Regions from separate parts of the Homo sapiens genome. Here regions 1, 2 and 3 are each linked to region 4. The links come from fine-mapping of genetic effects on gene expression. A gene starts in region 4. Each other region holds a variant in brackets. All regions are shown on one strand. Distances are between the middles of the regions.

Region 1 (7,566 bases), 23 kb before region 4:
TGTCCATACTGGAGTGCAGTGGCACAGCCACGGCTCACTGCAGCCTTTACCTCCTAGGCTCAAGTGATCCTCTCACTTTAGCCTCCAGAGCAGGTGGGACTACAGGTGCATACCACCACACTTTCCAAACTTCATAGTTGTGTATTTCGTGAGTCATCAAGTCACCCAACTTTAACCCTACCTAGAAGCAGGTTCAAACATTAAAAATGAACCCGTAAATAAAATTCATTTCAAACTAATCTGCATTTCAGGAAAAAGTTATTAAGCGTTGGGCCAGGCACTATAACTCACACCTGTAATCCCAGCACTTTGGGAGGCTGAGGTGGGTGGATCACTTGAGCTCAGGAATTCAAGACCAGCCTGGGCAACATGGTGAAAACCCATCTATACAAAAAAAAGGAAAAATTAGCTGGGAGTGGTGGCACATGCTGGTAGTCCCAGCTACTTGGGAGACTGAGGCAGGATGATTGCTTGAGCCTGGCAGGCAGAGGCTGTAGTGGGCTGAGATCATACCACCGCATTCCAGCCTAAACGACAGAACAAGATTGTCTTAAAAAAAAAACAACAACAAATTATGCAGGCTTTTTTATGAGAATGACTGACTCTTCTAACTTCTTTTTTTTTGAGATGGAGTCTCGCTCTGTTGCTCAGGCTGGAGTGCAGTGGTGCTATCTCGGCTCACTGCAACCTCCGCCTCCTGGGTTCCAGCGATTCTCCTGCCTCAGCCTCCCAGGTAGCTGGGATTACAGGCGCGTGCCACCACACCAGGCTAATTTTTGTATATTTAGTAGAAACAGGGTTTCACCACATTGGCCAGACTGGTCTCGAACTCCTGACCTTGTGATCCACCCGCCTTGGCCTCCCAAAGTGCTGGGATTACAGGCATGAGCCACCACACCTGGCCCTTTTTTTTTTTTTTTTTTTTTTGAGACGGGGTACCACTCTGTTGCCCAGACTGGAGTGCAATGGCGCGATCTTGGCTCACTGCAACCTCTGCCTCCTGGGTTCAAGTGATTCTCCAACCTCAGCCTCCCAAGTGGCTTGAATTACAGGTGAGTGGCTTGAATAACAGGCACCTGCCATCAAACCTGGCTAATTTTTGTAGAGACGGGGTTTTGTCATGTTGGCCAGGCTGGTCTTGAACTCCTGACATCAGGTGATCTGCCCACCTTGCCCTCCCAAAGTGCTGGGATTACAGGTGTGAGCCACCACACCCAGGCTTTTTTTTTTTTTTTTTTTTTGAGTTGGAGTCTCACTCTGTTGCCCAGGCTAGAGTGCAATGGTGGGATCTCAGCTCACTGTAGCCTCTGCCTCCCAGGTTTAACTGATTCTCCTGCCTCAGCTTCCCAAGTAGCTGGGATTACAGGCGCCTGCCACCACACTCAGCTAATTTTTGTTATTTTTAGTAGAGACGGGGGTTTCACTATGTTAGCCACACTGGTCTTGAACTCCTGACCTCAAGTGATCCGCCCGCCTCAGCCTCCCAAAGTGCTGGGATTACAGGCATGAGCCACTGCGCTCGGCACTCCTCTAGCTTCTTACTTGTCACTATATAGGTGTATGACCTCGACCAAGTCACTTTTCCTAATCTACAAGATGTCTGAGATTAATGACGTAACGTCAAACATTCCTCCTGGCTCTAATTTCCTACCTCTCCCAGCTGCTGAATAAGGAAGCACAATGACTAAAAAGCAAATGTGAGCCTAGGTATTGAGACACAAAACTCTCAAACACTTGGCTCTGGTGGCATCTCAGCTGTTAACTTCCCTAACACCTTTTCTTCATCCTAGCTTACTTTCTGTGTATCTGCAGATTCACATTCATTTTAGGAAGGAGGTCTGTGCTAACACAGAGCACCAGTTGTACTCACGCGTGGATCTTGCCATTGTAGTACTGGGTATCCATGATGATTACCAGGTGGGCAGCCACGTTCATGCCCCAGCAGAGACTCCGAGAAGCCACCACCACCTGGATAGCCCCTGAGCAGTAGAGGGGAGAGGAAGGCTGAGGGCAGGGGTCTCCGGGTGAAGTAGGCTCACTGCCTCATGGGCAGGCCGTGGCTTACCCTGTGCTATGTTTCAGAACTCACAGCAAGGCTGGCTAGGAACAAGGTCTAACATGAATGAGAGCTAACACATTGCTATGAGGTAGCTCCACGCTGCTGGTGCCTTGCTCTGGGACTATCCAGGAGAAAACAAGTCATCATAGAACAGAACCCAAAGCCCAGGAACACCAAGGCAAAACTACAGCTGATGGACTGCTCCTCTGACCAGAAAGTGCTAACACTCATGCAGCCACGGGCTGGCTCAGCCATGCCAGCAAAACAGAGATCACTCTAAGCATGCCCCAAACAGGCAGATTCAAGGGCCAAAGAGTGACAGGAAGTGATTCTGGCAGAAGAATCTCCAATGAGGCTCCAATAAACAGTATTAAAACGTAAATCTTTGCACAAAATGCCACAGGGCAACAAGAGACAGTGGCCAGCAAGAGTGAGCTCAAGGGAGAATCAGAGCTCTCCTCTGTGCTAATCTCTAAAGTCTAACTATCTTGGTGAGACGGTTTGGATCTGTGTCTCCACCAAATCTCGTCGACCTGTAGTCTCCAGTGTTGGAGGAAGGGCCTGGTGGGAGATGACTGGCTAATGGAGGCAGAGTTCTCATGAATGGTTTAGCACCACCCACCCTTGGTACTGTCTAGTGAATGAGTTCTCACGAGATCTGGTTGTTCAAAAGTGTGTAGCACCTCCCCACTCACTCTCTCGGTCCTGACTCCTGCCATATAAGATGCCTGCTTCCCCTTTGCCTTCCCTGAGGCCTTCCCAGAAGCAGATAACACCATGTTTCATGTACAGCCTGCAGAACTGAGTCAATTAAACCTCCTTTCTTTATAAATGACCCAGTATCAGGTATTTCTTTATAGCAATACAAGAACGGACTAATACACTTGGGGAGTCTGGTATCCACGGAGAATCAGCGGTCTGGTGGCCAAAGGTCCTGGACTCTAGAAAACCAGGTTCTGAAATAGCACAACCTGATGTGTCTGCCTGTTTTCTCACCTGGCAAGTAGGGATAGTGTTTGTCTCACCTGCCTCACGAGGTTCTTGGGAGGATCAAATGAGTTAACAGCCAAGAGTCCTAAACAGTATTTTGAAAATCTCTGGTATGCTGTAGAGAAAACACTGCCACCCGCACCCCTCAAGTTTAACACCACCACTTGGTGATACCCTTGCTATGCTCCCCTTCCGTGGCCTGACTTACCTGAGCTGAAGAGCTGCTCCACCAGGCGTCGCTCCATGGGGCTGAGCCCCTCATGCAGGTAGCCCACCCCATTTAGCAGCGTTTCCTTGAGCGTGCTGTCACTTAGCTTCTCCAGGTACGGAATCAGATCCTTCTCGGTGCAGTGCAAGAACCTGTGCGGTACAGGCACTGGCTCAGCTCAGAGTAGTTCAATTCCTGGCAGACACTTTGCCAGCTGTGCAGAACCTGGCCCCAAGCAACATGGGCTAACCCCACCCTCATAAAGAGGACACCCTTGGAGTAGGCCAGCCTCACTTAACCTAACCCCAACCCCCAGACGCCAGGCCCCACCTACCTCTGCCGTTGGATGTCTGCTGCACAGGTGGTGAGGATGTCAATGGCAGTGAGGCGGGTCTGCTTGCGAGACGGCACAAAGACAATGACAGGCTTCTTGGGCGAGTGCTTGGTGATAGCATGGTACACAGGCTTGGCCATGGAGAGCAGGCGGGTTTGTGTATGGCTGATGTTGAAGCCCTGGCGACCGGGGAGAAGAAAAGACACCAAGGTTATCAGACCTGGGTCACTCAGGATCTATGTGACACCCCACAGACGGATGAGGAGAGTGGGTCCTACCTGGATGTGCAGCTCCAAGGGGACGGGACGCACATTGGGATGGAAGTTGAAGGTGGAGGTGGCACTGCAGCCCAGCCAGTGGGCCACATCCTTGGCATTGGAGAGCGAAGAGCTGAGTGCCACAATGCGAATGGGCCGCTCAATCTGGGAGGAGATGTAGCGCATTCGGGAGCAGATCACTTCTAAGACAGGCTGGAAAGAGGGAGGGAGGGAGGGTCACTGCAGGCCAAGGCTCCCATCCTCTGCCTGGAGGTCCCCTTTGTGAACAGCCCAACAGCCTCAAAATGACCTCATTCTTCCTTCTAACTAGGAGCTCTCATGTGTTTGGTTCTACCTCCTCCACGGCAGCCAACCTCCACTAAACAATACTGTTTTCCTAAAGTACTACCAAAAAAGTTAACATTGTCCCTTTGGAATAGGGCAGCAGGTAGAATCCTCTGGGGAGAAGCCCCGAGCCTCCGTCCTCAGACCCAAACATTAGGTCCAATGCCAAGGCCACTTGGTCAGTCCCAGTCCCTCATCTGTGCTGCAAGGTCACGCCATACCCCATTCTCGCCCCCGATAAGGTGGACCTCATCCACCACGAAGAGGTTGATGTTCTGCACGTTCTTGCGCTGCTTCCATCGCCGGGAAAGTATGTCCCACTTCTCAGGGGTGCTGATGATAATGTTCCCTTTGCCCAGCAGCTTCAGGTCTGTGCTGGTCTCGCCTGTCAGGAGTACCACCTTCTTGTTGAGCCTGTCCTGGAACTTCTCGTACCAGTCCATGTATACCTGGCGGGCAGAGGAGGGAGGCAGAACAACA[C/T]TAGGCCATACCAGGCATCTTTCACTTATGTGAGGAAAACCTGAGATGCCAAACAGACCTGTTGACCTGCAGATCTCAAGCTACGTTCTAATCCCATAGCAGCCTCTATGCGATGCGATGGGGCAGCTTTTTCTTTTTTTTTTTTCTTTTGAGATGAAGTCTCGCTCTTGTTGCCCAGGCTGGAGTGCAGTGGTGCGAACTTGGCTCACTGCAACCTCCGCCTCCCGGGTTCAAGCGATTCTCCTGCCTCAGCCTTCCAAGTAGCTGGGATTACAGGCGCACACCACCACGCCCAGCTAATTTCTGTATTTTTAGTAGAGACAGGGTTTCACCATGTTGGCCAGGCTGGTCTCGAACTCCTGATCTCCGGAGATCTGCCCGCCTCGGCCTCCCAAAGTGCTGGGATTACAGGCGTGAGCCACCACGCTTGGCTGGGGCAGCTTTTCTTTAATACACAAACTGAGGAAATGACCCTGCAAATTTCAGGGCTTAGAAAGCCTTCATACGGAATCACAGATGAAATGCTTCTTGGGAAATTCACATGACACAGCGCCACGTCATACCTGCTCTGCCAGGGCCTCCATGGGGGTGATGTACACACAGCGCCCCTCCGAGCTCTGCAGCAGCATTCGCAGGATGGCAAACTCTGCACAAATAGTCTTCCCGCTGCCCGTGGGGGCCCCCACAAACACGTTGTCGTCACTGTTGTATACAGTGTTAAACACTGGAAACCAACAGAAAGAAGCAGTGTAAGTATCAAGAAGGAAGAAGAGACGGACTGGGACATGGATCAATTGTCAAAACAAAGGACAACATACGAAATGAAGTCAGGCAGTTCTGGAGTGCAGACAGAGGAGCTAAGGCATCCAAGCCTCTAACTCCAGGCCAGCCCTACTGTACCCCCTTACCTGCTCCCACTTAACAGTTAAAGGGGAAGAGGCCAAGATCAAGAGCCCAGGTCCCCTGGAGATGTGTGGGATGACAACAAAAGCAAAGCAAAAGAAGCCACACATTCTTCTTTGCTTCTCAGGGACTAGGATGCGGGACAGAAAGGAACTGGATCCCTTTCTCTGCCCCTTCAACACTCTCCTGCGTTTCCTAGAAATAGCCTAAGGTAGAAAGTAAGAGCCTTATCCCTGGCATCAAGACTGAATTAAAATCCAAGTTCTACTATTTATCAGTTGGTTCAACTGGGGAACCCTCTATGCCTCAGTTCCTCACCTATAAAAGGAACACTAATGGCAGTATCTCCAATAGAGATTCCTTTTAGGCTTGATGGGAGGAATAAGAGAGAAAACACCGGTGATGTACTCAGCCATGGACTGAGGAAACAGTGCCTGCTCTGTGAATGTCCCCGTTATTTATCATGATGTGGTGAGGAGGCTTCAGTGCCACCCCATGGTTCTGGTTCAATACTTGAGCGCCAGGGGCAGGCCTCTAAGCCTCCTGGGCCCGAGAAATGACCATGCCATGTAAGGCCTTGCTCTATTGCCCCTCCACAGTGACACATGCAGAGCAGCAAAGCAACCAAAGGCTTCTGACAAAGGAAAAAGTCCTGGTGGGTCCCAGCGGTCACACTGAGGAGCTCCCAGACCTCCCAAGTGCCTGAGCACCCCCACTCCCCTGCCTGCCACAGAGCACATCTGTCTCCCGGTGACTTCAAAAGCCTCCAGAGGAGGGATGGAAACACTTACCCTGGGTCTGGATGGGATTGAAGAAAGGAAATTTATCTTGGTAAAGACTCTCAAAGGCACTGTTTCTCAGAGCAGACACGGGCAAGGGCTGCAGGTCCAAAAGTTCGGTTGGAGGGGGGTACTTCTCCGGCAAGATCAGGTGCCGGAAGGAGACAGGCAGCTGGGTCTCACAAGCTGCCAGAAAAGAAACAGGAAGGATATAAGCACTGCTCTCTTTCCCTCACTGGCCTCTAGATCCCCTCCATGAACACTGGAAACCTAGGCAGCATATGTATCACTCTGTCCCCAGCAAGGGCAAGCCCGGGACAAAGTGCAAGACATTCTTCTACTGTCCTTGGAGGGACTGTTCCTGGGGACTCTGGAGAGGAGACACTCACAGAGCCAGCGGTCAGACACCACTCGGATGAAGTACTGAGGGGGCAGCGGTTCAAAGACAGGCACGAAGAATGTAATGAGGTGCTCGTCCTGGGCGTACTTGGCCTTGAGGAGAAAATACTCATGGTGCAGAATCACCTCGCTGTCCACATCCTCCACCAGAATCCAAAAAGCCTCGGATGAACCATGCACCTGCCAACAGGAGCAAGGGTAAAAGGAATGTGAGTCAACGTAGACTGAGTGCCTCCAATCCATCTCCTCGGCCCAGCAACGTAGACTGAGCACCTCCAATCCAGCACCTCTGCCCAGCAAAGCCTCACCTTTTCATCCCACTGGAAGTCTGGCGTGATGGTCAGCTCCACCTTCAGGGTGGAGCGTGTGATAGGCTGCAGGTGCACTGACAACTCCAACTTGGGAAACAGATGGACATATTTGTGGATGGTCTTCCCCATCTTTGGCATGCGGATAAGCTCCCCTACAAGGAAATGAGAGTACTGAGGCTGCAGCCCAGCCTGCCTACTATACTGCAAACTGGGCCTGAGGGCCACTGTGGGAAAGGGGTAGGGTCTTCCCTTTATGGTCAGTGGAGCCCAGGATTCCAAGTCCCCAGACCAAGGGCCAGCCTGTACTTCAGTGGGACTTGGGGAGTGAACACAGGATACTAATGCACAGGCCTAGGAACAGGAAGACTACATAGGCAAACTGGGAGAGACACCCAGGCAGTGAGGACAAGGGCGAGAGCATCCCACACACCAATCTCATTATGATTCAGGTCGTACAGACGCTCAAAGGGGAAATTCTTCTTCTCAATCTTCTTCACTACT
Region 2 (7,566 bases), 310 kb after region 4:
CTGGGTATGCCACAATGTACTGAAATACGGGCATTCTCACCTCCAGCACTTTGCTTCTCACTGCCCCAATCATATGCTCGAGACACTGTAGAACTCCTACCCCACTGCCATTGTTCAGCAGATGGGTGGCTACAGGGATGACCTGAAGGAAAGAAGTAGCCCCCACACCAGCAGAGGTAAGTTTCAAATCTTTCAATTCTGTTTAACCTAACCTAAACCCAAAACCTTGGAATTCCACATGAAAGAAGGATTAGAGGAGGCTCCACATGAAAGAAGGGTTAGAGGAGGCTCCACATTCAAGTTACCCATTTTGACCTCCTCCCACATATTCTTCTCCTCAATCCTCCAAGACTATATTCCCTGCCAGGAAGGAGTTCCTCTTGCCCCCACACATACCTTGCCCAAGCAGGACAGCTGAGATTGCCAGAAGCGGTGGCGGCGTGAAGTGGGAAACACAGAGCTGGAGGGACCAGAGGAGGCGATGAGAATCAGCGGAGAGCCAGGGAGTTTGCTCTAAAGAGGAAGAATCCCACCCAAAAACCAGTGAGTGAGAAGTGTCCTTTCATGAAATTCCAAGTATCCCAATACCTTTCTCATCCCAACCAATGCTCCTTTGCTTGTGAAATTATGTTAAGCACTATGTAAAATAAATTATTAATAATAGTTAAAGAAGCTGGCCAGTCATGCTGGCTCACACCTGCAATCCCAGCACTTTGGGAGGCCAAGGCAAGTGGATCACCTGAGATTAGGAGTTTGAGACCAGCCTGGCCAACATGGTGAAATCCTGTCACTACTGAAAATTAGCTGGGCATGGTGGTGCATGCCTGTAATCTCAGCTCCTCAGGAGTCTGAGGCAGGAGAATTGCCTGAACCCAGGAGGTGGAGGTTGCAGTAAGCTGAGATCGTGCCACTGCACTCTAGCCTGGGTAACAGAGCAAGATTCTGTCTCAAAAAATAATAATAATAATAAATAGTTAAAGAAGCCATTTATCCTCCTGCCAAGGTTCTAAGGCTTGAGTCTAAAATTTTTATGTACCATTGTTAAGTCCTGAGCCATCCAACTTACTGGTTTGTTATGAGAAAGCACACCCACAGCAGGGTCCCAGGGCCTCTTCAGTAGGAGAGACAAGGCCTCAGCTCCTGCAGCCCCAGTCTTTGTGTTGGATGACACAAGCATCCGGTCAATCAAGGTTGGGATCTACAAAGAAGAAAGAGCAAAGATGACTCCAGTGTAAAGCAGGAGACCTTCCACCACCAGCAATCAAGCAGAAGAACAGAGCCCCACTATAAGCCATAGACAGACTTCAACTAAGCCTCTGAAAACCTCCTAAGGATCAAGAATATATATAAATAAGCGGGTGAAAAGTATGCTCCCACCATGAAAAGTGAATGTGTACAATCCTTTGGAAAGCAGTCTGGATATGCAGCAAGGGACTTAAATGTATTCCCATCCCTTTTCCAAATGTTTCTACTTCTGAGAACCTTTCCAAAGAAAACGTATCAGAAACAAAAACACACACAAAAGGATGGGGACAATTATGCACAGAGACAAATTAACTATGAATAATAATAAAGTAAAAACAATTTAATATATATGTGCATATGTAAGGGAGTAGTTTAGTCAACTATCTACCTAATTGGATATTAAAGATTATTTTCGAATATTTACAAGAATTTATTTATTTATTGAGACAAAGTCTCGCTCTGTCGCCCAGGCTAGAGTGCAGTGGCCTGATCTTGGCTCACTGCCACCTCTGCCTCCCGGGTTCAAGCGATTTCTTGTTTCTCAGCCTCCCAAGTAGCTGAGATTACAGGCGTGCACCACCATACCCAGCTAATTTTTTGTATTTCTAGTAGAGATGGAGTTTCACCATATTGGTCAGGATGGTCTTGAACTCCTGACCTCAAATGATCCACCCGCCTCAGCCTCCTCAAGTGCTGGGATTAAAGGCATCAGCCACTGCACCCAGCTTTCAAATATTTACAAGGATATATAATAACACACAGAAATAATTTTGCTAAAATGTTACAGGTAAAATAGAAAATATAAAGATTATCTCTACTCAAAGCTGGGCTCAGCGACTCATGCCTGTAATCCCAGCACTTTGAGAAGCCAAGGTGGGCAGATCACTTGAGGTCAGGAGTTCGAGATAAGCCTGGCCAACATGGTGAAACCCTGTCTCCACTAAAAATACAAAAATTAGCCAGGTGTGGTGGCGCACACCAGTAATCCCAGCTACTTGGGAAGCTGAGGTCCGAGAATCACCTGAACCCGGGAGGTGGAGGTTGTGGTGAGCCAAGGTCATGACACTGCACTCCAGCCTAGGCAACAGAGTGAGACTCTTCTCAAAAAAAAGAAAAAAAAAAAAAAGAAAGAAAGAAAAAAAGAAAAAAATTATCTCTACTCCCCTAATGCTAAATGACGAGTTAATGGGTGCAGCACACCAACATGGCACACGTATACATATGTAACAAACCTGCACGTTGTGCACATGTACCCTAAAACTTAAAGTATAATAATAAAATTAAAAAAATAAAAAAAGATACATTAAGTGGGATAAAACAGATTTCTAAACAATGAATATAATAGAATCATATTTTAAAGAAAATATGCTGCACACCTGTAGTCCCAGCTACTCAGGAAGCTGAGACACGAGAATCGCTTGAACCCAGGAGGCAGAGGTTGCAGTGAGCCAAGAGTGTGCCACCGCACTCCAGCCTGGGAAACAGAGGGAGACTGTCT[C/CA]AAAAAAAAAAAAAAAAAAAAAAAGACAAAATGTTAATAATGATCTCTATGGAGTTTATGGGTGACTTTTTCCTTTACAGATTTCTATGTTCCCTAAATTTCCTCAATGAGTATCAGTTGATTTTATAATATTTTTAAATCTCCATTTTCTTCTAGAGTACTGCCTTCAAGCTGTGGTGTACTAAATAAATCTGTTATTATGTACAAAAATATATATCCTGCTATACTATATACAGTGTACTTTATCTCATGTCTGTTTTTTACTATCTACCAGAAATGTGACATTACAGATGTGCAAATATAGGTTTCAGACATGTTGATGCTTACACTGAGAAGAAATATCTGCGAATTCCATGCTACCCACAAAAGGTCAAAATGACCTAGGGGAAAGGAAAAATGTTTAAATATTAGAGGCAGTTTTCAGAGAAAGAAAAAGGTTTTGAAAAATTGGAGAATAAAAAGTACTACGGTTTGATGCAAGTTGTAAAACTCCAAAAATAGCAGAAGATAAGTTGCTCTTAATTTAAAAACAGGGACACTAAAAGGATTTCTGTATGAGAAATTAGAGAATTATAACCATTAGACTTTCTCAGTTTAACTCAGGAAAGAAATATTCGTGCAACTGCTTTTACAAGGTACCAGGCTAGTACTGCAGAGGAATTTAATCTACAAGAGGTAAGGAAGACAAACACACAAATAATGGTGGGGGACAGGAATAGGGAAAGACCGATAACTGCCATGAAAGAAACAGAAGCCCAAACTGCTATGATTCAAACCACCCAATGGAGAAGAAGTTAAGAGGCAATTTTCATCTAAAGATACAGCATGTGAAATGAGACAGGCTCTTTGGAACAGGCAGGATTCCAACAGAAGATGAGAGAAAAGCCTTCCCATCAGAGACACCAGCAAGAGGCAAGAATGTGTAGAGCTTATTCCAGGCACAGATGGACAAAAGTCAAGGATGCAAGTAAGGAAGGAGGAGGATGTAAAAAGCCAGTAGGAAGGATAGGACCAAACCGCAAAGGATAAGACCAAACTGCAAAGGATCTTCATGTTCTTTGTAACTCACTCTAGAACTGTGAGCCACTCAACACTTTGAGGCAAAGGATGTGACCCTGGGTTAAGCTTTATCTAACAGTAGTATATAGCTTTGAAACCAAAAAGCCTTGACACTTGCTTCCTGTCAACAAGGGATAAAAAATCAATACTGACTTTTCCACTTGGAGCTGGGAAGACCAAGCTTCCCTGGCCCTTCCAGCATTGCATTCACTCTCAACAGCCAATTAAAAGGCTAAGGTCTATACCTTCTCTGCCCTCTTTATCATAATGGATCTAATAGTGAAAGTAGCTGGGTGAAGAGCATGATCCCATCCACCTGCGCTTTCACATCCAGCAGGCACTTTAAAAGTAAAACAATCCTATAATCATTTATATCCTTTGGGAAACAACCAAAGTATTTGTTGTGAATCTAAATATAGTCATGGGAAAATAAGAGTCCGATGGCAGAGGAACCACTGCGGAGAGCACAGCCCAGAGAGGATGTTGCCTTGAGTCTGAGGCCCTTGCTGACTGGTGTACCAGCGAGCCTTCCACTATTCCAGTCAACCCACACCGTGGCCCAGCAGCATGGGAGGAAAACACCCAACTATGCATGCTATGGAGTCCCCCCAGTGGTCTGCCATGCTCATAATATCCGACATGCACCCAGGAGATGTCCAGTCAGTAACTTAAATAGGGCAGCAGTACAAATTCCTCCTTAAAGGGAAATTATGCTAGCCACAGTGAGTGAAGCAGGGTCACCAGAGAACTGAGACCCTGGCCACTACCAACACTCATCTCCTACAGTGTATTCACCAATGTTACACTTTTACCGTAGGTAGAATGCTGAGGAGAACATATGTGAAGATGCCTACGATACTTCTGGGCCACCACTCTCTGTCTGCCAGGATCCAGTCTGGGCCCCACACTCTACCTGCCCACCACTCACCTCCCGGGTCCAGGGTTTCTACTACAGGGGAGCAGTACAGGGGAAAGTCTGGGACTCCCTTTTCATTTGTCTCTTTCTTCACTAGAAAATACACTCCACCAGAGAAGGGACCAGTTTTGTTTTGCTCACCCCAGTACCTGACACACGTAGGGCCCAAAATAAGTATTAGTTAAACAAAAAAACTAGTGTCAAATTTCCTACCATGAATATCATTAATGTATCTAGTCCTGAGTTTTATTTCAGCACTAAACCAGTCTTCTAACAAACTTGGCACCCTTTAACTTAAAAACACATAAGAAACAATGAGTCTGCAAGTTTTGGGGATGTGGCTGAGGGAACGTGTTGGCCAGGCAACTTACAGCAGCAAGATGAGCCAGCTTCCTGTGAAGCAGAAAGTAAAACTATTAAAAAAAAAAAAAAAAGTGTCAAAAACTGAATCATGCTTATGCCTGTAATCCCAGCAATTTGGGAGGACAAGATGGGAGGACTGCTTGAGGCCAGGAATTCAAGACGAGCCTATAGCAAGACCGTCTCTACAAAAAAATTAAAAATTTAGCTGGGTGTGGCAGGGCACGGCAGCTCACGCCTGTAATCCCAGCACTTTGGGAGGCCGAGGCGGGCGGATCACGAGGTCAGGAGATCGAGACATGGTGAAACCCTATCTCTACTAAAAATACAAAAAAAATTAGCTGGGCGGGGTGGCACACGCCTGTAGTCTCAGCTACTCAGGAGGCTGAGGCAGAATTGCTTCAACCCAGGAGGCAGAAGTTGCAGTGAGCCGAGATCGTGCCACTGCATTCCAGCCTGGGCGACAGAGTGAGACTTTGTCTCAAAAAAAAAAAAAAAAAAAATTTCTTTGCTGGGTGTGGTGGTAGCACACACCTCTAGTCCCAGTACTTGGGAGGCTGAGGCAGACGGATTGCTTGAGCCCAGGAGTTCGAAGTTATAGCAAGCAATGATAGTGCCACTGCACTCCAGCCTGAGTGAGAGAGGAAGATCCTGTCTCCAAAGAAAAAAAAAAAAGGCCTCAGACAACTTGGATTGATTTGGTTCTTTCTCTTCTCTCTCTCTCTCTTTCTTAGAGACAGGGACTCCCTCTGTCACCCAGGCTGGAGTGCAGTGGTGGGACTGAACTCACTACAGCCTCCTCCCACCAGCCTCCTAACTAGCTGGGACTACAGACGTGTGCCACCATGCCTGGCTAATTATTTTATTTTTAGTAGAGACAAGGTCTTGCTATGTTGCTCAGGCTGGTCTCAAACTCCTGAGCTAAAGCGATCCTCCTGCCTCAGCCTCCCGAAGTGCTAGGATAATAGGCATGAGCTACTATGCCCGGCCGTGAGGCCATTTTGTATTGGAGCAAAACACCCCAAATATTTCAAGAACCTATGAGGGTACTACTTAAATAACTGTTAATATTAGTAATAATAATTACTGTGGGCTCACTGCTTACTATGTGCCCAATTTTGTGTTAAGCCCCCTACCTGAATTAACTAATTTAATTTTCATAAAAATCCTAGATAGCTATTATTATCAGCCACATTTTAGAGATGAGACACCAGTCCAAGCTTACACAGCTAATCAGTAACAAAGCTGAGATCAGCCAGGCAATCTGCCTCCAGCATCCGCATTCTACCACATTGACGATAGCCTGATGCAATCACTGGAATCACCAAGAAAAACAGTTTAACTTTGTGCAATACTAAGTAAGAAAGCAGGGAACTATAATGATATGTTTGTACTGAATTATAAAAGTCTAAGTGTTGCTACTAAAGGCTCATGCCCTGGGGAGCAGAATTGAAGGCATCACGGCACGTTCCTGCTCTGCAATCTCCCAGTGCTCCGAGCACCAAGGGTCTGCTTCTGTCACCTTTCTCAACAAACTCTTCCCTGGTAAACCCTTCGTCTCCTTCATGATAATTCAATTCAGCCATGACTCAAACCACAAGCTGCAAGGCTAGGAAGGCTAAATGTATACTCTGGTTTTCAGGCCCCATACCTCATCCTGGAGCCAGCAGGGCTGAAAACGTTTACACCAGACACAAATGTGAAATGATACCCTGTCTCCCAATTTTAGTACCAAACCCATTAGTTTTGGCCATGCACTCCAGACCGACCAGATAATTACTTTGCCTAACCCCACATCCTGAACCCACAGGGGAGGATGGCTATCCCTAGGACAGGGCAGACCCCAATCACAGCCTTACCTTCCCCTTCAGCGTCTGCAAAGCATCCAGGTAGGCTGCCAGCATGGGCAGACTCAAGGTCTCCACAAGGGTGGTGTGCAGCCACTGGATCAGCTTGGTATCCCAGCTCACACTTGCCAGAGCCTGCCGCACTCTCCTTGCACACTTGTCCACAGCAACACGGCGCAGCACTGGCTCATTACAAGCCTGAAGGATGTAAGTGGAAGTAATAAAACATGAGGACTACCTGGTTAACAAGCAGGGGGACAAGTCAGTCAGCCAGTGAGGCCTGAACTACGAAGAGCCCACTGTGGGCGGATTGCTGGTGTCTTACCCCTTCGTTGGCCAAGCGGGCAAGCCGGTCAGACTGCAGGGCTTTGAGGATCTTGTTGAATAGCTTGTTCTGGGCCATTGTCCAGCCAGTCCTATAAGGGAAACTCTGAGGAATTATAGTCAAACCCTGGGGACGCTCCCCATGTATGTACACCATATAAAGAAGATTATGCCATAGTTTTATGTCTCTGCTAGGGAACAGTAAAACGAAGTAGCTTAGTCTAAGACCACTGACCTAAAACACAAGACCTAGATTCTTCTGGTCTCAATCCTACCAAATCAAATCGTCACAGCACACACTTGTATTAATAATACAC
Region 3 (7,472 bases), 60 kb before region 4:
TAGTGTATATCTATGGGGCACAAACTTAATCTCTGTAGGCCCTCTGCCATAGTTGCTCTGTGCCACTTGATAAGGGGCTGGTATCTAGAATATATAAAAACTCTTAAAACTCAGCCGGGCATGGTGGCTCATGCCTATAATCCCAGCTCTTTGGGAGGCCGAGGCAGGCGGATCACCTGAGGTCAGGAGTTTGAGACCAGCCTGGCCAACACGGTGAAACTCTATCTCTCTAAAAATACAAAAATTAGGCGGGCGTAGTGGCTCACTCAAGACTGAGGCAGAAGAACCACTTGAACCCAGGAGTTGGAGGTTTCAGTGAGCCCAGATGGCTCCACGGCACTCCATCCTGTGCAACAGAGTGGCACAGGATGGCAAAAACAAACAAAAGCTCTTAAAACTCAACAATAAAAGACAACCCACTTTAGAAATGAGAAAAGGGCCAAGTGTGGTGGTAATCCCAGCACTTTGGGAAGTTGAGGTGTGTAGATTGCTTGAGCCCAGGAGTTTGAGAGCAGCCTGGGCAACATGGCAAAACCACATCTCTACAAAATACAGAAAAGAAAAAAAAAAAATCAGTCAGGTGTGGTGTTGCACACCTGTAGTCCCAGCAACCTGGAGGCTGAAGTGTGAGGATTGCTTAAACCTAAGGAGATAGAGGCTGCAATGAGCTGCGATTGTGCCACTGCACTCTACCTTGGGCAACAGATGAAGACGCTGTCTCAAAAAATAAGAATAAAGAAAGAAAGATGGGAAAAGAATTTATTTCTTTCCTTTTTTTTTTTTTTAGACAAGGTCTGGCTGGTCCCCCAGGCTGGAGTGCAGTGGTGCAATCTTGGCTCACTGCAACCTCTGCCTCCCAGGTTCAAGTGATTCTCCTGCCTCAACTTCCCGAGTAGCTGGTACTACAGGAGCAAGCCACCACACCCAGCTAATTTTTGTATTTTTAGTAGAGCCGGAGTTTCACCATGTCGGCTAGGCTGGTCTCGAACTCCTGACCTCAAGTGATCTGCCCACCTCGGCCTCCGAAAGTGCTGGGATTACAGGTGTGAGCCACTGAACCTGGCCTTTTTTTGCTGCTGTTGTTGTTCGTTTTGTTTTGTTTTTGTTTTTGTTTTGAGATGGAGTCTCGCTCTGTCACCCAGCCTGGAGGGCAGTGGCTCAATTTTGGCTCACTGCCACTTCTGCCTCCTGGGTTCCAGTGATCCTCCTGCCTCAGCCTGCTGAGTAGCTGAGACTACAGCCGAGACACCACCATGCCTGGCTAATTTTTTTTTTTTAAGTAGAGATGGGGTTTCAGCATTTTGGCCAGGCTGATCGTGAACTCCTGACCTCAAGTGATCTGCCCACTGCACCTGGCCTTTTTTTCTTTTTTTTTTAATAGAGATGAGTACAATGGACTTTAGGGACTCAGGGTAAAGGGTGGGAAGGGGGTGAAGGATAAAAGACTACACATTGGGTACAGTGTGCACTGCATAGGTGGTAGGTGCACCAAAATCTCAGAAATCACCACTAAACGACCTATTCCTATAACCAAACACCACCTGTTCCCCAAAAACCTATTGGAAAAAAAAAAACTCACGTAAGTAAATAAATAGAGGCCAGGAGCAGTGGCTCACACCTGTAATCCCAGCACTTTGGGAGGCCGAAGTGGGCAGATCACCTGAGGTTGGGAGTTTGAGACCAGCCTGGCCAACATGGAGAAATCCTGTCTCTACTAATAATACAAAAATTAGGTGGGCATGGTGGCACATGCCTGTAATCCCAGCTACTTGGGAGGCTGAGGCAGGAGAATCACTTGAACCTGGGAGATGGAGGTTGCAGTGAGCAAAGATCACCCCATTGCACTCCAGCCTGGGTGACGAGCGAAACTCCATCAAAAGAAGAAAAAAAAGAAAGGAAAGAAAGATGCGGTCTGGTGGTGCTGCCCAGGCTGGAGTGCAGTGGCTATTCATAGGTATGATCATAGTGCACTGCAGCCTCAAGACTCTTGGGTTCCAGTGGTCCTCCTGCCTCAGCCTCCTGTGTAGCTGGTACTACAGGCTACAGCTAAACTGCTCAGTTCCTCAGTCCTTCTTCATCTCCCACAGTGGATACAGAGCGTGGCAGCCCCCTCTCAGGAAGTCATGGATCTTTATGGCTGGCAGGACTGTAAAGTCACCCAGTTCAGCCCCTCATTTACATATAAGGAAACAGTCCTATAGAGAAGGCGTGCCTTTTTAAGTCACACATTTGAGCAAATAAATAATTATCTCCTCACACATTTAAGATTGCTATTACATCCTTTTCTCTAGAACTTTTAACCTTTCATCCACTCAGAATGCTTGCCTGGACCCTCTCCAATTTCTCAATATCTTTCTTTTTTTTTTTTTTTTTTTTTTTTTTTTGGAGACGGAGGCTTGCTCCGTCACCTAGACTGGAGTGCAGTGGCATGATCTTGGCTCACTGCAACCTCTGCCTCCCAGGTTCAAGTAATTCTCCTGCCTCAGCCTCTCAAGTAGCTGGGATTACAGGCGCCCACCACCACGCCCGGCTAATTTTTGTATTTTTAATGGAGACGGGGTTTCACCTTGTTGGCCAGGCTGGTCTCAAACTCCTGACCTCAAGTGATCCACCCACCTCAGCTTCCCAAAGTGCTGGAATTACAGGCGTGAGCCCTCGCGCCCAGTTCAACATCTTTCTTAAGTGGGCCCAAGGTTGGGGGGAAAATCTCACCGTAGAGATATTTGTTAGATATCGAGCATGTGCTGAAGAAGGCATCTGTGATGATTAATTTTATGTGTCAGTTGGACTGGACCATGGGGTGCCCAGATATCAGCTTGAACATTACTCTGGGTCCATCTGTGAGGGCGTGGGGTAGGACTGGCATTTATGTTGGTGGAGCAAGTAAAGCAGGCTGCCTCCCTAACGCAGGGGATCCTCATCCATCAGCTGAGGGCCCAAATAGAACAAAAGGCTGAGTTGGAGGGCGCCCCTCCTGCATGACCAACTTTCAAGTGGTGACATCAGCTTTCTTCCTGTTTTTGGACTTGAACTGAAACATCAGCTCTTCCTGGATCTTCAGCCTGCTGGCCTTCAGACTAGAACTACAACCTCGGCTCTCCTGGGTCTCGGCTTGCTGACTCACCCTGCAGAACTTGGGACTTGTCAGCCTCTACATTTGTATGAGCCAATTCCTTATAATGTCTTTCTGTATATATACATATATCTCCACATCTTATTGTTCTGCTTCTCTGGAGAACCCTGAGTAATACAGCATCATTCCAAGATCAGCAGAAATGTTAGTGCTTCTGGGGAATTACTGCAAAGGGTACCTGAATAGCAGCACATGCTCTCAGTACCCCCGCCTTCTGTTGTCTGCTGTTGCCTGCTCCCTCCCCACCCTTTGGGTTGATTTCAGGATAGAGATATGGGGATGGGACTGGGGTTGGGTGTGCGGTTACCCAGAACAGCCAGGATGTGTGCACGCTGTGACCCAGGAGCATCAAGCACTGCTCAAGCTGCTTGGAAAAGAAAACAAAAGTCAGGAAAGTGAGGAGCTGGGAGGGTGCTGGAAAGGAGCAGGAAGAAACGGGCAAGGGTAGGAGAGAAGCAGAAAAAACAATCCCTGAGACAGAGCTGGTGTAACCAAGGCTCTGTTTCCCCCACGGTTTGAGAGTGGGTGAGCCTGACTTCAAGGCCCAGCTCTGTTCAAAGATAGGACACTGATTTTCTTCAAGAAGGCAGAGCTGGTGAGTGGCCTCATGTCTTACCATCATGGAAAGGCGAGGGCTGGGGGAGAGAGAAGGGGCAGCCAAGGCCTCAGAGTGGTGTAGGCCTCACCCTTGTGCTCACATGTCCCAACCACTGCCAGCGGTGCCACCTCTGAATCCCAGACCCCACATGTAACCATCCTCTACCTGGACCACAGGAGGAAGCTCCACGTTCTTTGCCAGGGTTCAGGGTAAGGGGCATGATCTAAGTTGGGCAAAAGAGAGTCATCCTGTTACCTTAAAAAGGAGTCTAGGGTGAGCCCCAGTCTGCTGGTGGCCATCTTCACCACCTTTGGGGAGAGATGGCCTGAGCAGACACACAAAGCAAAGAGGTGGAGAGAAACTGTGTCTTTGTGTCATTGTTTGAGTCCCTGGACCCAGCCCAGTCCCCCCGACTACGCTGAACTTTTCAATTGTGGAAAACAATAAATTCCATTTAGTTAAGAAATTTTCAGTTCTGGGTCTTGCAGCTGTGAGCATTCTGACAACCTTGATGTTCCAGGCCCTCCTGGGCTAGGTCCATGAGCTAATTGCTTGCCCTGCACCTCCAGTGGGAAGGAGCTGCTCACATCAACTCAGTGTTCCCCAAAGCCACGCCCTTCCTTTCCTGCTTTCACACCACTGCCTACACCATGCTCTCATGAAGGCCTGCCCCTTCTCCAAGGCCCAGATCAAGTCTCTTCTTTAGGAAGTGTTCCTTGGCTATCACGTTTCGGTGTCATCAGGTTTCCTCTTTCCTGGTGGCTGGATTGGAAGGCCTTAGAGGGCAAGGATCATATGTGTTAGAATTTCTGCATCCTCCACAAGGCACTTGTGTTCAGTGTATTTGCTGAATGAATGTCACATTAAAAAGCGTGACCCAGCCGGGTGTGGTGGCTCATGCCTGTAATCCCAGCTTTTTGGGAGGCCAAGGCAGGCGGATCACCTGAGGTCAGGAGTTCAAGACCAGCTTGGCAAACATGGTGAAACCCCATTCTCTACTAAAAAATACAAAAATTAGCCAGGCATGGTGGTGTGCGCCTGTAATTCCAGCTACTCAGGAGGCTGAGGCAGGGGAATTGCTTGAACCCAGAGGTGGAGATTGCAGTGAGCCAAGATCGCACCACTGCACTCCAGCACTCCAGAGCGCACTCTTGTCCACTCGCAACAGAGTGAGACTCCACCTTAAAAAAAAATAAAAACAACAACACGACTCCTGGCCTAATGGACTGATAAGGTAAA[CAAG/C]AAGAAAGACACAGGCCTGTACACATAATAGAAATTGGGTGTGTACCAGCCTGGGCAACATGGCAAGGCTCTGTCTCTGCAAAAAATAAATTAGCCAGAGGTAGTGGCTCACACCTGCAGTCCCAGCCACTCAGGTGGCTAAGGTGGGAGGATCACTTGAGCCTGGGAGGTTGAGGCTGCAGTGAGCCATGATTGCAGCACTACACTCCAGCCTCCAGACAGAGCAAGATCCTGTCAAAGAAAAGAAAGAAAAAAGAAAAGAAAAGGAAGGAAGGGAGGGAAAGAAAGGAAAGAAAGAGAAAGAGAAAGAAAAAGAGAAAAAAAGGAAAGAAATTGCATGTGTGTACATGCAAGCAAATTTCCCATACCCCGTTAGAATATGAGGAAGCAAACAGATGGAAAGAATCAATAACGGGGCAGGGCGCAGTGGCTCACCCCTGTAACCCCAGCACTTTGGGAGGCCAAGACGGGCGGATCACCTGAGGTCAGGAGTTTGAGACCAGCCTGGCCAACATGGCAAAACCCCATCTCTACTAAAAATATAAAAATTAGCTAGGCATGGTGGTGCATGCCTGTAATCCTAACTACTTGGGAGGCTGAGGTTGGAGAATTGTTTGAATCGGGGAGGTGGAGGTTGCAGTGAGCCGAGATCTTGCCACTGCACTCCAGCCTGAGCAACAAAGTGAGACTCCGTCTCAAAAAATAAATAAGAAAAAATGAATGAGACATTCTTCTTTTATTAAAATAAAACCCATCCACCACCCCAAGGTTATTCCAGAAGGAAACTCTCCACCAATAGTGGTGGCACTAGACATATACTGAGAGACCCCCAAGAGGGAAGTGAAGCCATGGGGGCATCTGGGGCTACATGGTCTATCTCGCTACACAAGGAGGCCCTTTACAAGGCTAGCTGCCATTTTCTACCAAGACAGAAGGACAGGAACCTTCCAAACAGGGCAGCCTGCAGGCCCTGCACCTTCAGGCCCCATTCTCAGACACCTGTACAACCCCTTAAGCCAGACGGACTCACAGCTGTCTCTGGAAAGTTCTTCGTTACCTGACTCTTTAGACACAGGGTTGGCTGGAGGGGCCTCTCCCTCATCTTGTACATCTTATGAAGCCCCTTACCACCCACTGTGTTGCTGTCCCACTCAGCTGAAGGGGCTGGCCAGTCCCGCATAAACCCTCCAGCTCTGAGATCAGCCAATCTTCCCTGGGCACTGCTCTCTCCCCCAGCAAAAAAGCCAAGAATTTTCCCCAAAGCTTATGGTGAGGAACCTGTGTGTGTGTGTGTGGTGTGTGTGTGTGTGTGTGTGTGTGTTTGAGATGGAGTCTCACTCTGTCAGGCTGGAGTCCAGTGGCATGATCTCGGCTCACTGCAACCTCTGCCTCCCGGGTTCAAGTGATTCTCCTGCCTCAGCCTCCCGAGTAGCTGGGACTACAGGCACCTGCCACCATGCCTGGTTAATTTTTGTATTTTTAGTAGAGACGGGGTTTCACCATGTTGGCCAGAATGGTCTCGATCTCCTGACCTTGTGATCCACCCACCTCGGCCTCCCAAAGTGCTGGGATAATAGGCGTGAGCCACCGCACCCGGCCAGAACTGATCTTAATTCTCAAACCAGTAACCCTAATGAAGCGTCTTCGTTTCAGGTGGGCTCATTCAAAACGACATTTTCAGGCTTGGTGCAGTGGCTCAAGCCTGTAATCCCAACCCTTTGGGAAGGGAGGCAGAAGGATTGCCTGAAGCCAGTAGTTTGAGACCAGCCTGGGCAACATGGTGAGACTGTCTCTACCCACCCCCACAAAAAAAACATTTTCTCTTCTCCACAAACCTCCTGCCTCCCATTAAAATGTCACTCCCCCCAAAAAATGCAGAGGAAGAGGTAAGATTGCAGGCTATTTGAAAACAGGGGCATGAAGTTTGTCAGTTCCCTTCTGTCTCCCCATAGCATCTGTGTTCCATTAGTGTAGTGGCTGAGAGCGTGGATATTTCAGGCAAGATGCCAGCTGAAGATTCTCTAGTCATCTTGGGAAAGCCGCCCTGCCCCAGATGCACCACCTCTTCCTGTGTCCCAGGGTCCTCTCCTTGCGGCCCTTCACATCCCATGGCTTCTCGTGTGCGGGCCCCTCTTCGCCTGTGCAGTTGATGCCACCTTCCAGCTGCCACGTGACAGGTGGGCAGAGACTGGGGCTCCCGCATTCCCAACTCCAGCACCTGGCTGAGACACTGGGCCCTGGGATTGACTGTGACCGCCCTCTTCCCCTTTGGCAGGTCCTGTCTCCCACTTTCAACACCCTCACTTAAGGCCAGGCAGAACCCTTCCTACTGTCACCAGTCATTAAAATAAGGTTGCATCCCTCCCTTCCCTTCTGAAAATCCTTCCTGGGCTCCTTCTGCTGTTAGTGCCTTAAATGAGCACCCCTCACCTTTCTAACCTCGGCTCTTACCACCTCCTGGCCACCAGTGTGCTTTTGCTCTTGCCATTCTCTCAGCAG
Region 4 (7,566 bases):
AAGGATCTTAGAAGCTGTATGCCAGAAAATGAAATAAAGACCTAATATATATTTCACAATATCACACTCACCTGGTCCCCAAGAGCAGCCTGGATGAAGCTGAGTAGCACCTCATAGGTCTCCCGAGTCTCTTTAGTTTTGGGCTTGTAGATGATGCCCACCATCTCATCAATGCCCTCCGACAGCAGAGTATAACCCTTCATCTTGTTGATGTCATGCCGGTCCTCATCACGCTTTCTTCGCCTAATGGACATGCAATGTGATATTGAATGGCAGAACCTTTCGTCCCCAAGGGAAGACTGGATCAAGCCCACCCTCCTCTCCTCAGCTTCATGGCAAGAAGTTAATATCTGAAAACAGGTATCTGAGCCTCAGCAAATGATTCCGTTTGGCCTTAATCACTTGCAGGAGTATTTCTTTATGGGACACAGTGACAAAAAGAAAAATTCCCTATCATCTTCTCACTAGATGCACTAAACATTACAATGAGATGTTTCTCATTTAAAAAATACAACCCTTTGGCCAGGTGCAGTGGTTCACGCCTGTAATCCCAACATTTTGGGAGGCCAAGGCAGGCGGATCACCTGAGGTCAGGAGTTCAAGACCAACCTGGCCAACATGGAGAAACCCTGTATCTACTAAATATACAAAAATTAGCCGGGCACAGTGGCGAGCGCCTGTAATCCCAGCTACTCAGGAGGCTGAGGCAGGAGAATCGCTTGAACCCGGGAGGTGGAGGTTGCCGTGAGAGAGATCACGCCACTGCACTCCAGCCTGGGTGACAGAGTGAGATTCCGTCTCAAAAAAAAAAAAAAAAAAAGTACAACCCTTCATACATTGTATGAGACTATTATATAATAGGATTTTGACTAGTTTTTCACCTCTCCAATGCATTTTCCCTTTCTAGCTAGAGAACCAAGCTCTAACAGAATCTACTGCCGTTGACTATCAACAAAGTATAACAAAACTGGAAAAGAAGATATAGCACAAAGTGGAGATAATGTATTAACTCATTTCAAACATAACTACTTTAATCAAACTAAGCCTAGGAATTTTGGAAACTTCATCATAGGAAAGGGAGCAAGACACCAAGATATTCAGGATCAAAAGATAATGATGAGGTAAAGGTAAGTTTTTGAAACATATCCCCAAGAAATCTTAAAAAAAAAAAATAAAGGAAAAAAATGCAAACTAAGAAAGAAACCTGTCTTTCATACTATGGATGCTTAAATTAGTTTGTTACAACAAAATAGGTAGAACGTGGACAAGAGTAAATGGAAAAAGTAGGGGTAGGAAGTTAGTAATGGGAAAAAAGGAAAACGAATTACTGGGACATAGGAATAGCAAGGGTCTTGAAAATACCCTGAAGAAAATTAAGATCTGTCTATGGACCAGAAACACACATGTAAGAAAAAGGTACCAACAAGTTATTTTCCACTTGAGATGCACTTGTTAAGGCCAAAAAATCTTTAAACTCTCCTGGTCTGTTTTTACCTTCACTGAATTGTTTTAATGCCACTGATCTTACACCAAGCATTCCAGCAAAAATGCTGCTCGAATGTTAAAGGGAAGAGACTTTGGATCTGAAGGAAAAAATAGTATCCCCTTGGCACTCACTTGGCTCTTCTTTCCTCCTGCATCTGCGGTTTGGTCCGTTGAGCCTTGTCTCCCATACGGGTGCCCTCCAGCTTCCCAACAAGGGACAGCACCTCTCCTGTGGGTTCATCCCGGCGGGTCCGGTCAATGAGAGAACGGTCAGCTTGGAGCACAAGATTCGAGTTCTGAAAAGATCAAAACATTATTGAAGCTTTGACATGAGCAGGGCCAATTCCTACTATCATAGTTACCCCAGCTGATGGAAAAAATCGTAGTAACTAGTTGCTTATCATCACTAATCGTAATAAAAATATATTTTCCTTAAGAATTGCATAGTATAACGCTGTGCAGAAGCGTACAGCTGAATAAGTCTTATGCGCTGTCGAATCAGCTAAACAATTCTTGTTCCTAACAGCGCCCATCATAACCCACACCTGTGAAAAGTAGTGAGTGGGTTGGGAGTGACGTGTGGAAGGGGGAGGGCTTAGCGTTGAAGGTACTCGAGAAACTCCTCCTAGAGAGATCTTAGCGCTCCCCAGACCCCAGTAGGTTATTCACGTCATCGTATAACCCCCACCTTCACCCCGATTCCATTTCCCCTTCGTTTTCGTGGCTCTCCTGTAGGCCTTCAGACTGAAACTCCCTTTTTCAGCCTCCCCCTCCCCATTGGACTCCTGAGCCTGGAATCCTTCCCCAAGACCAAACGCACCGCCTTGTACTCGTATTGCAGACTACGGGCGGTTACATCCGCCATGGCCGCGGCTGCTCGGAGGCTTCAGACCACCACGCCTCCCTACCGCAAGCTGCAAACGGCCGCAGATCTCTGCTCCCGCCGCGCCGGAACGACGCAGGAAAGACGCACTGGGGAAGGAAAAGAAACGGGTTCCCTTCCGCTTCCGGGTCGCGCCCCAGAAGTGCGGGGCGGGGCGTGTCTGGGGCGTGTCCCTGCCGTGTGCGCGCGGCTTTCCGCACCCTTCTGAGCGGGATATGTGGGCCTGGTGCGTCTGGGTCCCCGAATCCCTAGACCCCCGCACTCTGGTTCTGGCCGCCCGCTGGCACTAAGGACCCAGGGCCCGTGCTCTCCCCGACCTCAGTCTCCAGCCCCCGGCACCCCTCACATCATAACGAATGCACGGCTGCTTAGCCCCTGTCCTGTCCCAAGACCTTTCCTTCCGGTTCCTTCCTCTTTGGCAACAGTCCCATGAGGTAGGCAGGAAAAGAGGGGCCGAAAACCCCATTTCCGTTTGAGGTAACTAAAGTACCCAGCGAGCAAGGTGACTTGCGCGTGTGTCTGTGTTTGTGTGTTTTAATGATTGGCGCCTTGCTTTGGGTTTCTCTTCTGTGTTCAACAATTGAAAAAGAAAGCTACTATCCCCCACCAATCCCACCTAAACCTGTGCCCCCAAGACCCTCGTTTTCACCCAGCTGAACGAACAGGGCCGGGGCCCCCATTTGCTCCCACTTGTCGGTAACATTCTATGGTAGGGCCCTCCCTGCCGCCCAGGGAAACCGGTGAAGGCAGGGCCAAATCCTTGGTGACTATGACTTAATTTCTTCCCCAGCTACAAAGTCTTCTCTGTCCCACATTCCCCACCACTTCTCGCCAGTAGAATGGCGCCTTATGGCTGAAGGTGACCTCCCTCCTCACTTAGAGCATGTTTGCTTTTGAGAAGATGAATGAACAGGAGGATGGGTGTTAAGCCAAAGGAATTCATCCTCAATAGCAGTCCCCTAGACCAGATTTGTTCTGTAGTGGTATCGTGTTTGGCTCACTGTTGGCTCCTTCTTTAAAAATTGGGATAATTTCATGCAAACTCTGGCTCTCCCCCATCAGTTGAGATACTAGAAAATCAGCCACATGACACCCACACTGCTGCATGGCATGACCTGCTGCTGGTCAGCAGCTGCCAAGGTCAGAGAATAGGCAAGTCCTTCCCACTGCTCCTGTTTTCTCATGCCTGCCCATCTCCTTATTTTTACTTGCCCAGCCCCTGTAGGCATGGAGTTTGCTGCTTTGGTGGGTGTTTGTTTTTTTTTTAATAACTCGTCTTCCCAAGGGACAGTCGAGTCCTCATGGCTCTGCTCCTCAGTGGCTGTGTGACTTTGAAGTAGCTAGCTACCTGGCCTCTCGGTGAGCACCATTTTCCTCATCCTTAAAATTGAGGCAATTGGCTGGACACGCTGGCTCACGCCTGTAATCCCAGCACTCTGGGAGGCCAAGGCAGGCGGATCACTTGAGGTCAGGAGTTTGAGACCAGCCTGGCCCACATGGTGAAACCCTGTCACTACTAAAAATACAAAAATTAGCCAGGCGTGGTAGTGGGTGCCTGTAATCCCAGCTACTCAGGAGGCTGAGGCAGGAGAATCACTTGAACCTGGGAGGTGGAGGTTGCAGTGAGCCGAGATCAAACTCTGCACTCCAGCCTGGATGACAGAGTGAGACTCTTTGTCTTAAAAAAAAAAAAATTGAGGCAATAAAACCTTCCTCCCATTGTGATTAAATGGGATAGTGTGTTTAAAAGCACCTAGCAAAGTGCCTGACTCAAGGTGGGGTTCACTGAAAGTTATTGAAATCTGAATCCTTAAGGCTGACTTTTATTCCATGATCAGGCTGTGGCCCACCCACCTGACACGAAAGGGTCTCAAAGGTATTTCGGAGATTCCACTCTGTTTCTGTAGAAGTAGCATTCATGTTCACAGATGCAGCTGGGCTGTGGGCAAACCTGTGAAGCAAGAAAAAAAGGAAACTTTCCCCATCTTTTCTTTTCCTCTCTAATCAGGCTCTACCAAATGTAAATCCTGCATTTAGTCATTCAGATGGACTTATAAGTTTCCATAGTATGTTAGACCTGGTAGGAGCCTTAGAGATGGAGTAGTCTGGTTCCCTTATTTTCCACAAGAGGAGACTGCAGCCCTGGAACAATCGTCACACTAAAATGTAAATAAGGAAGAAAATAATTATGATTTTGAAAAGAAAACAACAGGCTGGGTGTGGTGGCTCATGCCTATAACCCCAACACTTTAGGAGGCTGAGGAAAGAAGATTGCTTGAGGCCAGGAGTTTGAGACCAGCTTGGGTAACATAGTGAGGCCCTGTTTCTACAAAAAATTAAAAAGTAGCCAGGCCTGGTAGTGTGTGCCTGTAGTCCCAACAACTTGGAAGGCTGAGGCAGGAGGATTGCTTGAGCCCAGGACTTCAAGGCTGCAGTGAGCTAGGATTGTGCCACTGCACTCCAGGCTGACCCACATAGCAAGACTCTTCCCTCAAAAAATAAAAACAATTTTTAAATTAAAGATAGAAAAGAAAAATGACAGCCGTGCTTCCTCACTCTGCGGAAGGGGCTCAGGGAAACTTCCTGGGCCAACTTGTTGAAAATGGGGGAAGGTGTCTAGTGAAGACAAGTCAAAGGAGTCACTGCCCCACATGAGAAAGGAAAGAGGAGCTGGGGTTAGACTGGGATGTAGAAAAGGGAAGAGAAAAGTCTTCAGGAAGCAAGAGAGGCCCAGGAAAATGACAGTCAGCCAGGACCTAAAGGAGCCACAAGCAAAGAGAAATTTATTTTACTTTTTTTTTTTTTTTTTTGAGATGGGGGATCTCACTGTGTTGCTCAGGCTGGAGTGCAGTGGCACGATCATGGCTTACTGCAGCCTCAATCTCTTCAGGCTCAGGTGATCCTTCTACTTCAGCCTCCCAAGTAGCTGGGACTACAGGCACACACCACACCCAGCTAATTTTTTGTATTGTTAGTAGAGATGGGGTTTTGGCATGTTGCCCAGGCTGCTCTCGAACTCCTGGGGTCAAGCGATCCACCCACCTCAGCCTCTCAAAGTGTTGGGATTACAGGCTGAGCCACCTTTCCTGGTCTGGGCAAAGAATTTGAACAGACGTTTCTCCAGAGAAAATATACACTGGCCAATAAGCACATGAAAAAATGCTCAACAGCCATGCGTGGTGGTTCACCCCTGTAACCCTAGCACTTAGGGAGGCCGCGGCGGGTGGATCACGAGGTCAGGAGTTTGAGACCAGCCTGGCCAACATGATGAAACCCTGTCCCTACTAAAAATACAAACATTAGCTGGGCGTGGTGGCGTGAGCCTGTAGTCCTAGCCACTCGGGAGGCTGAGGCAGGAGAATCACTTAAACCCAGGAGGCGGAGGTTGCAGTGAGCTGAGAGCATGCCATTGCACTCCAGCCTGGGCAAAAAGAGTGAACCTCCATCTCAAACTAAATAAATAAATAAAAATAAAAATTAGCTGGGCATGGTGGCACATGCCTGTAATCCCGGCCACTCGGGAGGCTGAAGCAGGAGAATTGCTTGAACCTGGGAGGCAGAGGTTGCGGTGAGCCAAGATCGTGCCATTACACTCCAGCCTGAGTGACAGTGCGAGACTCCTCAAAAAAAAAAGAAAGTTAAACATAGAGTTACCCTATGACCCAGCGATTCTACTCCTAGGAATCTACCCAACAGAACTGAAAACATGTCTACATAAACATTTGTACACAAATGTCCATAGCAGCACTACTCACAATAGCCAAAATATTGCAACAACCCAAATGTTCATCAGCTGATGATGGATAAGCAGAATGTGCTATTTCTATACAATACAATATATTATTCAACCACAAAAAGCAATGAAGTACTGCTGTGTGCCACAACATGAATGAATCTCAAAAACATATTAAGGCCAGGGACAGTGGCTCATGCCTGTAATCCCAACCCTTTGGGAGGCTGAGATGGGCAGATCACTTGAGGTCAGGAGTTCAAGACCAGCCTGGCCAACATGGTGAAATCCTGTCTCTATTTTTTATTTTTTTATTTTTGAGATGGAGTCTTGCTGTTGCCCAGGCTGGAGTGCAGTGGCACAATCTTGCCTCACTGCAACCTCCACCTCCTGGGTTCAAGCGATTCTCCTGCCTCAGTCTCCTCATTAGCTGGGATTGTAGGTGCGCGCCACCACGCCCAGCTAATTTTTGTATTTTTAGTAGAGACGGGGTTTCGCCATGTTGGCCAGGCTGGTCTTGAACTCCTGACCTCAGGTGATCCACCCGCCTCGGCCTTCCAAAGTGCTGGGATCACAGGCGTGAGCCACCAAGCCCAGCCCCCTGTCTCTATTAAAATACAAAAATTAGCCAGGTGTGGTGGTGCACGCCTGTAGTCCCAACTACTTGGGAGGCTGAGGCAGGAGAATTACTTGAACCTGGGAGGTAAAGGTTGCAGTGAGCCGGGATCCTGCCACTGCACTCAAGCCTGGGCGACAGAGTGAGACTCTGTCTCAAAAAATATATATTAAATTAAGGCCTGGTGCAGTTGCTCACATCTGTAATCCCAGCACTTTGGGAGGCTGAGGCTGGAGGATTGCTTGAGGCCAAGAGTTTGAGACCAACCTGGGCAACATAAAGAGATCCCTGTCTCTACAAAAAAAAAACAAAATTAATTAGTTGGGCATAGTAGTGCACACCTGTAGCCCCAGCTACTCAGGAAGCTGAGGTGGAAGGATTGCAAACCCCAGAGCTTGAGGCTGTGGTGAGCTATGATCTCGCCACTGCACTCCAGCCTGGGGCAAAGAGGGAGACCCTGTCTCAAAAAACAAAAACAAGTTTTTAGAAACCATATTAAATGAAAGAAGCCAGTCACAAAAGACCACATATTATGTGATTCCACATATATGAAATGTCCAAGGTAGGCAAGTCTATAGAAACAGAAAGTAGTGCTTGCCTAGGGTAGGAGGTTGAGGAGGAGAGTGAGGGAATAACTACAAATGGGAACAAGTTTTCTTATTGGGGTGATGAAGATGTTCTAAAATTACACGATGGGGATTGGTGGACAACCCTGAATATATGTTAAAAGCCACTGAACAGTTTATTTATTTATTTATTTATTTATTTATTTAGAAACAGGGTCTCACTCTTGCCCAGGCTGGAGTACACTGGCACAAGCCCAACTCACTACATCCTCAAACTCCTAGACTC

Direction of the effects. Positions count from the first base shown, and alleles are read on the strand shown. Sizes are in standard deviations (SD) of each study's normalised expression.
For the expression in whole blood of the gene that starts at base 2,459 in region 4, allele C in region 1 goes with a higher level than allele T (moderate effect, 0.54 SD a copy in GTEx).
With allele CA in place of C in region 2, the expression in monocytes of the gene that starts at base 2,459 in region 4 is higher (moderate effect, 0.61 SD a copy in BLUEPRINT).
As copies of C replace CAAG in region 3, the expression in thyroid of the gene that starts at base 2,459 in region 4 goes down (large effect, 1.1 SD a copy in GTEx).

The links.
Region 1: its variant is fine-mapped to the expression of SNRNP200 in whole blood (TOPMed, PIP above 0.99). The same link has a PIP of 0.9 or more in blood mononuclear cells, lung, sun-exposed skin, tibial artery and tibial nerve.
Region 2: its variant is fine-mapped to the expression of SNRNP200 in monocytes (BLUEPRINT, PIP 0.95).
Region 3: its variant is fine-mapped to the expression of SNRNP200 in thyroid (GTEx, PIP above 0.99).

Annotation. Positions count from the first base shown.
Region 1 is chr2:96,279,944-96,287,509 of GRCh38, forward strand. It overlaps SNRNP200 (small nuclear ribonucleoprotein U5 subunit 200), which reads right to left. Exons shown (of 45, transcript NM_014014.5): 26 at 7,496-7,566; 27 at 7,063-7,217; 28 at 6,745-6,934; 29 at 6,368-6,541; 30 at 5,237-5,397; 31 at 4,415-4,642; 32 at 3,870-4,061; 33 at 3,592-3,770; 34 at 3,258-3,409; 35 at 1,871-1,979. Among named protein-coding and RNA genes, the nearest start is that of CIAO1, 18 kb to the left of the region's middle. RefSeq lists an enhancer at 1-38. The variant C/T (reference allele first, on the strand shown) is at 4,674.
Region 2 is chr2:96,612,422-96,619,987 of GRCh38, forward strand. KANSL3 (KAT8 regulatory NSL complex subunit 3) reads right to left here. Exons shown (of 21, transcript NM_001115016.3): 4 at 7,251-7,341; 5 at 6,938-7,123; 6 at 1,067-1,198; 7 at 397-513; 8 at 41-142. Among named protein-coding and RNA genes, the nearest start is that of KANSL3, 22 kb to the right of the region's middle. The variant C/CA (reference allele first, on the strand shown) is at 2,744.
Region 3 is chr2:96,242,824-96,250,295 of GRCh38, forward strand. It overlaps TMEM127 (transmembrane protein 127), which reads right to left. Exons shown (of 4, transcript NM_017849.4): 4 at 5,691-7,472. Among named protein-coding and RNA genes, the nearest start is that of TMEM127, 19 kb to the right of the region's middle. The variant CAAG/C (reference allele first, on the strand shown) is at 4,971.
Region 4 is chr2:96,303,088-96,310,653 of GRCh38, forward strand. SNRNP200 (small nuclear ribonucleoprotein U5 subunit 200) reads right to left here and starts at 2,459. Exons shown (of 45, transcript NM_014014.5): 1 at 2,306-2,459; 2 at 1,618-1,781; 3 at 72-243. The coding sequence starts at 2,350. RefSeq lists enhancers at 2,324-2,618, 2,868-2,947, 3,540-4,168.